Linked DNA regions of Homo sapiens. The protein of the gene in region 2 interacts with the protein of the main gene of each other region in a pairwise test. Each region holds a gene or a part of one and is shown on either strand. Other genes may lie near its edges.

The links.
Region 1: the proteins of OGDHL (region 2) and SLC13A1 interact in a protein complementation assay, tested with the Homo sapiens proteins (one large-scale study listed by BioGRID).

The regions. Positions count from the first base shown.
Region 1 is NC_000007.14:123,193,439-123,197,261, forward strand, and holds part of SLC13A1 (solute carrier family 13 member 1), read right to left. Parts: intron 1-3,823. UniProt on the Homo sapiens protein: Sodium:sulfate symporter that mediates sulfate reabsorption in the kidney and small intestine. Can also mediate the transport of selenate and thiosulfate.
Region 2 is NC_000010.11:49,752,150-49,755,972, forward strand, and holds part of OGDHL (2-oxoglutarate dehydrogenase-like, mitochondrial), read right to left. Parts: intron 592-3,823; coding exon 489-591; intron 100-488; coding exon 1-99.

The DNA.
Region 1 (3,823 bases), on a different chromosome or scaffold from region 2:
CAGCCAATTATTTCTTACTTATACTATTTGTCCATCATGGGTAGAGGTTACTACGTGATCCAGGCTGAGAGAGGCATCACCTCAACCTGTGCTTTCGTGATTGCAAATGCAGGAACAATGACATAAGGCAATCTGAGCACAGCTTTTAAAGATCTGATATAAATATCATTAAATAAGCAATGACATCATGAGCTTGGAAGTCAGACAGATTTGTGTTTAAGTCCTCTTGCTCCCTTTGTGGACTGTGTGACTTTGATCACATTTCTTGACCTCTCTGAGTTTCTGTTCTGTAAAATTGGGATGATATTGACTATTTCTAATTGTCGCTATGAGGCTCACAGTGGGCATTCACATTTACTATTGTTACCAAACAAGGTATAAAACATATTATGGGAGGAAGAAAGAGCTTTGTGAAAGGGACAGCCTCTGGTTACACCTACATTCTTCTTGTTCTGTCCTTTCATCATTATTTTCACTCTATTGAAGTTCCCCTCTTTCATCAACCTCTTTCTCCTGCATTCTCTCCTTCCTATCAGGTCCAAAGCCTTACATCCTTCTGCCACGCTAGATCATCCTTCACTCAACACAGTTATTAACTATCTACTATGTGACAGGCACTGGGTTTGGTGCTGGAGGAGACAGAAATTTAAACACTATGCTCCATGTTCTTGAGATATTTACAGTCTGGAGGGAGACACAAAGATAAAGCAAAACGGAAGACATACTGTAATAGAGGCCAATGTATCCATGATGCAATGAGAGCATCGAGGATGATCCTTAGTTTACATCACAGCCTGAGCCTTCCTTCCCAAGAAGGGTGAGGTAAGAGGAGATGGCATTCTAGGAGGAGGATATAGCGTGTGAGAAGGCAGAGAGACAAGAATAATCACAGGCATTCTAGAAACTGCAAATAGTGAAGTATTGTTAAAGAGGAAAATGCAAATGTGGGAGATAGATACTGGGGACTGTGTGGTGGAGGCTTTTAGGACAAATAAATGAAAAGTCAGAAATATCCATCAGCAAAACCATCTTTTGTTTAGATATTTTTCCATTATAGGCAAAAAGGAACCATTGAAAAATTTTGATTTTTCACAATTGGACTGAGTTGGCATTTAAAAAATAGTACTCTGGCCAGAGACTGTAGGGGAAAGTGTGTAAAAAACAAACAGTCTATGAAAGAAAGAGAAAGACAGCTTCAAGGAAAGCAGTGCCAGCAGGAAAGGAAAGAGAGGAGAAGATGAGGTTGAGAGGGGAGATTTAGGAGGATTTAGATTAAGGAGATGCAACACCGTATTAGTGATGGGGGCTTGTGGATATTTGAAGCATCTGAGATGACATACAGCTTTCAAACCTGTGAATGGAGAGAAGGGTAGTGGCATTCTCTGACATAAAGAAAACAGAAGGAGCAGCAGGTTTTGGGCAAGTGGGACTGCATGCGGTTAGGGGAACAGAGGAGCTGGAAGATGATGAATCCTTAGTGGTTTATCCACTTTTTAATTACGCCTTCATAGCACAGATGATTTCTTTAAATTATTCGGCATGTGTTTAGGTACAACCTACTTTTGCCATTAATATTTGTCATACTATATAATGACTTTCCAGCAATTCTGCAAGCTACATAAAGACAGAAACATTAATTTAAACTTCTGCTTATATCACACAATTCATCTGGCACAACACTTTGGGCTGGGAAAGTTCTTGTAAAATATTTGTGAAATAAAAATATATTACCAAAATTGGATTTTCTGGTTTTGTCGAACTACCACATTGCTATTAGCATTATTTCTATTTTTTTCCTTGTTCTTCATCATTTCTGCATTCTTTGGTGTCCAAAATATTCACTTACTTGGACTTTATAGCATTTTCTTCTTTATCTTAAATCCCTACAATATTTTTATGCCAACATTTAAAACAGTATCAATTATTTCCATTAATATATTTAATTATTTTATTTGGCTCTTTAAAACTTATCTGTTTTCTTGGAATTTCTCTCCTCCCTCTTCTTTCACTTATAGTCTTTTTAAATTATCTCCTACTCATTTTCATTTTCTTTGACCAACTTCTCGACCTACCACTTCCTCCTTCTAGGGGATACTTCACTTTTTAAAGTTTATATTTCCTTACAATCATTATATTTCTCCCATCTGTTTATTTTATTTTTATATCTAGCACCATAAGTCTCTCATCATGTATCATTTTATTTATTATTATTTCTATTCTCACTTTGAAAGTCATCATGATTCAAGTGACTATATCGTGAGTTTCAAAGTTAGAATATAAAATATTTTCTAGAGAAATCCAAAATATTTTCTGAAGAAAGAATTAAAATTTGGTATCGGTTTTACAACCCATCAACTAAGAAATGCTGCTCAGTATATGTGTGGTTGTTTCCTTGTCTCCTGATCTTAAAAAGGGGTCCTGATTAATAAGTAAGCTAGATAGAATAGGTATACCTGGAAGAATTGCACTCTACAAATATAATATATTGTTGTTTGATTTTCCCCTCTTACTTCTAACAAATCTGGCCTTTTTGTTTCATGAATAAAAATACAAAGAAAATCCAATAACTGGAAAAATAAGTAAGGAAATAGTATTGACTGCTGAAAAGAGTAAAAATTAACAAAATAGCCTAAAAAGAACAAAGTTGCACATAGAATATTACTGAAACTATGTCAGTATATACTAGGCCAGTTTTACCAAGATTTTAACTGGAAATATTTAAAGAAATTTCTCTCCAAAATGAGAAAAACTCAGTGTGATTATTTCATTCAAATAAAAAGCAGTTACACTCCAGACTTGTTTACTGATCATTAACTACTAATTGGGTAAGGACTGAGATTACCATTATGTTTAAGAGACAGAAAGAATTTCTGATGCTCAGTGTAAATCAATAAGAAAATGGAATTGCATTAGCGAAGTGAGATTCACAGCAATGTACTAGGAATATATTTATTATGACCACGGAAGCTATAAAGACACAGATACTCAGTTGTGATTAACATCATTGGCTCTAGAGTCAGACAGAAGTTGGTTGGAAAAATCTGTGTAGCCAGATTTTTGCAAGCTGCTTACCTGTTTTTGTCTCTATTTCCAATTCGGACGCAAGTATGGAGAAAAGGGGCACCATATCCTGACAAGCTGACTGACCAGCTTAAAAAACTGGGGCTCTGGGACACCCAGCAAATGACATCCTTATAGCTTCAGTTCTCATAAGCCTATCTTCAGTGGTTAGAATCACTGCAACTTTCTACCTTAATGACATTGCGTACCATAAGGTCAATTGAGGAAATGGTTAAAACAGAACTCTTCTGTTTGGCCTGTCTAAAGCATTTTCATGAACAGAAATGCCTGTGTTGTTGACAAATGATGAACAAGCCATGAAAGAGTAAGTCTTCAAAAATATACAAAAGACTAAAACAAAATCACTTTTAAAGCATGAATTCTGAGTTCTGACAGGATCCAAGCTCAAATTTACTTTCTAGAGCATGTAGATGGCCTTTGGTGAGTTACATGTCTCTGAGCATCAATTCCCTCAAATGTAAAACGAGAAGCACATTTGTACTTGTTTATTCGTTTGTGATGGAGGTTAAATAAGATAATTTGGGGAAAGCAGTTGGCAGAATGCCTGAAACAGAAGAGTACTCTGCAAATCAGTCTATTCTCCGTCCCTGTTAATAGTACATTGAAAAACCAGTTAGGGTCTTTCTTCATTCATGGCACTTTTTTCACTTTAGATGGAATTAAGACATAAGTTAAGGCCAGTCTATTGAACAACTCAATAACAAGCAGGAAAATGAAGGAAAGAAATCAGTCAATAATTCAT
Region 2 (3,823 bases):
TCTCCCGCAGAGAGAGGGTGTTTTCAGAGCCCCCAATGAAGGTGGTTGTCGGCAGCTGGAACTCCTTATCAAGGTCAGCCTCCTGAAGGTCATAGAAGGCTGGAGAAGGAGGCGTGGCCGAGCCCCGGGCAGCAAAGTGGAGGGAGGGAGGTCAGGCCCAGGTGGAGCCCCGCAGTCTCACCAGACCTCCCAGTCTCCCCAGTGCCCTCCCTCTGGGTCCAACCTGGGGAGCAGAAGTGAGAGTGAGCCCAGGGAGGCAGGGTGGACAAGCCTCTCAGGCTTGAACACATGGGGCACAAGCTAGGGAAAGTGGCAGGCATCCTTCTCAGGAACAACAGGCAGTACACAGGCAAGGTAGAAAGGAGGCCCTGTGGGCTGCTCCCCGAGCTCCATGGATTCCCAAGGATCAGGCTGTCCCTAGTGCCCGTGGGCCCCTTACTGGGCCACCCACACAGCACTGCCATGGCCGTCCTGAGGAAGGGTCTTACCCAGTTTATCAATGGTTGTGATCAAGTCTGAGGGCACAAAGGAGTCCAGGTCTGCATCCAGAATGCCCAGGGGGTCCAGCTGGGCCACATGGTGACCCCGGATCTGGGAGGAGGGAAAAGAGCAGGGTGGGGCTGGGACCCAGCTGGACAGACCTCCTCCAGGGTAAGGCTCTGGGCCCCAGCCCCTCTCTTCCCATTCCCGAATGTTAAGCTTCCCCATGTCTCTGCCCCGCGGCTACTTCACTGCTGCCTGCGAGACCCCAGCCACAGCCAGTAAGGTGGCAGGAGCTCAACCTGGTTTGGAAGTACAACATGCACGGGCAAAAACAGGAAAAAGACCTATGCACAAAGGTGTTCACTGCGGTGCTACTAGTAATAGTGAAATTCTAGAAACTTCCCCACTGTCTATCAGCAGGAGACTGGCGCATGGATATGGGCGATCCACACAGCGGAGCACTCCAGAGCCATTAAAAGGAAGAAGAAAAATCCCCATCTGATACTACAAGGTAGTCTCTAAAAAATATTGTTAAGCAAAAAAGCAAATTCTAGCAAAGTATGTATGGTGAACTACACATTATCTAATAAAAAGGAGACACAAATAAATATATGCATTAGAAGGGAAAATCATAAAATTTAAAAAAACCACAACATAAGAAAAATTATCCTCTAGGGGAGGGGACAAAATAGGATAGAGAGGCAGGGCTAGGAGCCAGATTTTTAAGAAGTTATCTTACTTTGAAGATTTGACTTTCAAACCTTGTAAATATTTTACATTCTTATAAAACAAAATTAAGTCTTAAAAATTGAAAGTGAAATGAATCAAATGAATAAATATGTCCACTTAGTGGCATAAATACAGAGAGAAACCATTCCAATTGACTAATGGAACATTCCCTAAAGACAAACAGAAAAAAATTCATCAAGTCTTTTTTATTACCAGTCAGTCGTAATAGTGTTAGAATTGTTATGCTGGCTGGGCACAGTGGCTCACACCTGTAATCCTAGCACTTTGGGAGGCTAAGATGGGTGGATCACCTGAGGTCAAGAGTTCAAGACCAGCCTGACCAACATGGTGAAACCCCATCTCTACTAAAAATACAAAATTAGCTGGGCGTGGCGGCACATGCCTGTAATCCCAGCTACTTGGGAGGATGAGGCAGGAGAATCGCTTGAATCTGGGAAGTGGAGGCTGCAGTGAGCTGAGGTCGCACCACTGCGCTCTAGCCTGGGCTACAAGGAGAAACTCCATCTAAAAAAAAAAAAAAAAAAAAAAAAGAACTGTTATTCTAAGATTGTTGCATGTGAGCTCTGGGAAATCAAACAAGCCATTGTACTGGCATCTTTGAGAACCTCTATTTTTGACATCTCTAAAGGCAATGTTGCCATAAGATTGACAGGGTCAAGGACAAACCCCAAATCCCACATTTGTAGCACGTTAGAAGCATCAGTATAAACCCTTTCCTGGCTCTGATTCCTGAAAGGGCCCAGAAGTAATGATCAAACCAATAGCAGGAAACAGCCAGAGACCTGGACAGTTCTGGAATAGGCAGAAATGTACAAGCTGAGCTTGAAGCATCTTGTTATACCAACATCAAGGCAGTGTTCAAACACCACGAGTGCTGGGAATAAGGACAAGTTTTGAGCAACTATAAGGACAGTATACCTACAGCAGATTGAAACTCATCAAATATGTTTATATTCATGCATTCATATGAATCCAAAAAAAAGAAGATAAACTTTCATTAGTCACTTTTGGAGTGTGCTAGGGAATCACCTCATAATTTTGAAAATCACTGAATAAAAGAAAAAAATAAAGCAGTGATCCTGTCTTTCCTACACAATCTGCACCTCAGGATAAACAGAGTTAACAAACGGAAGTTTCTCCTGATAGTGGGACTTCAGTTAATAAAGAAGGCAAAACAGAATTGGCATATCACCATTTTTGCAACCCCTAGTGAGTTAATGGATCTAGGAAATCACTATCCACAGCTGCTAACTGCTCAAGTGCCATCACCATCACCACCAGGAAGCTGATTTTGAAAAAAAAAAAAATCAAATGTCTATGGGATCGAGCCTCTAGATCTAATTGTCAAAGTACAGAAATTACATGGGACAATGGGACAGATGAAATGACATCATGAGGAAGCCATCAGCAAAATCCAGACTTGGGAAAACCCTACAGGACAAACCACCTGGTTTTTCCACATCATAAAAAGAAACAGAGGGAACCTGCAAAGTACAAGAGACGTAAGAGCCACTTTAGCCTATTGCAACCTGTGGATTTAGCTGGATCCTGCTTCAAAGAAGCAGTAAAAAGAAAGCACAGGCTGGGTGCAATGGCTCACGCTGTAATCCCAGCACTTTGGGAGGCCAAGGCGGGCAGATCACTTGAGGTCAGGAATTCAAGACCAGCCTGGCCAACATGGTGAAACCCCGTCTCCACTGAAAACACAAAAATCAGCCAGGCGTGGTGGCAAGCACCTGTAATCCCAGCTACTCAGGAGGCTGAGCCAGGAGAATCACTTGACCACGTGGGGCAGAGGTTACAGTGAGTCGAGACTGCATCACTGCACTCCAGTCTGGGTGACAGAGTAAAACTCCATCTAAAAAGAAAAAAAGAAAGCACAGGACAAAAGGCAAACACAAATGTCAACTGCATATTTGATATTAGGCATTATTATGTTTAGATGCGATAATGGTATCATGGCACATTTTTTAAGAAGCCCTTTTCTCTAGACATACACAAAGAAATGTTCAATGAATGAAATGCTATATCTGGGATCTGCCTCAAGATAATCAGCAGTGAGCGGGGGCTAAGGGGGAAATTGATGAAACAAGGCTGGCCATGATTGATGGGTGGTGGGCTCACTGCACTATCCTTCTGCCTTTTATATGTTTGAAAATGCTTATAATAATACAGTGTTTTTTTTTCAGCACAGTGTGCAGGTGATTCTAACCACAGCTGTGCCTGCTACTCGCCTGTAAGGGGCTGCAGCCCTCCTGGTGGGAGCTCATCCACACCAGGCACAACAGAGTAACACACCTGAATCCAGAAGCCACCCTGCCAGGAAAACTCTCTAATGCCTCGTCTTGGTTAATCAAAGAACAAAGAGCTACTGAAGGGCTGAGATCTGTGCTTAGAAGATAAGGCCCTCGGGCAGCACCCTGAACGTTTCCCTGTATTTAATATACAGTTTTACATCCTTGTTCTTCATTTTTGAAGTCAAGGGTTAGATCACTGTCTGCTTCTTTCAGCCAGCCAGGAAAGACACAATACACAATAGCTGCTGTTTGCTCCTAGGTGGCCCACAATTGATGGGTCCTCAGGCCAGAAG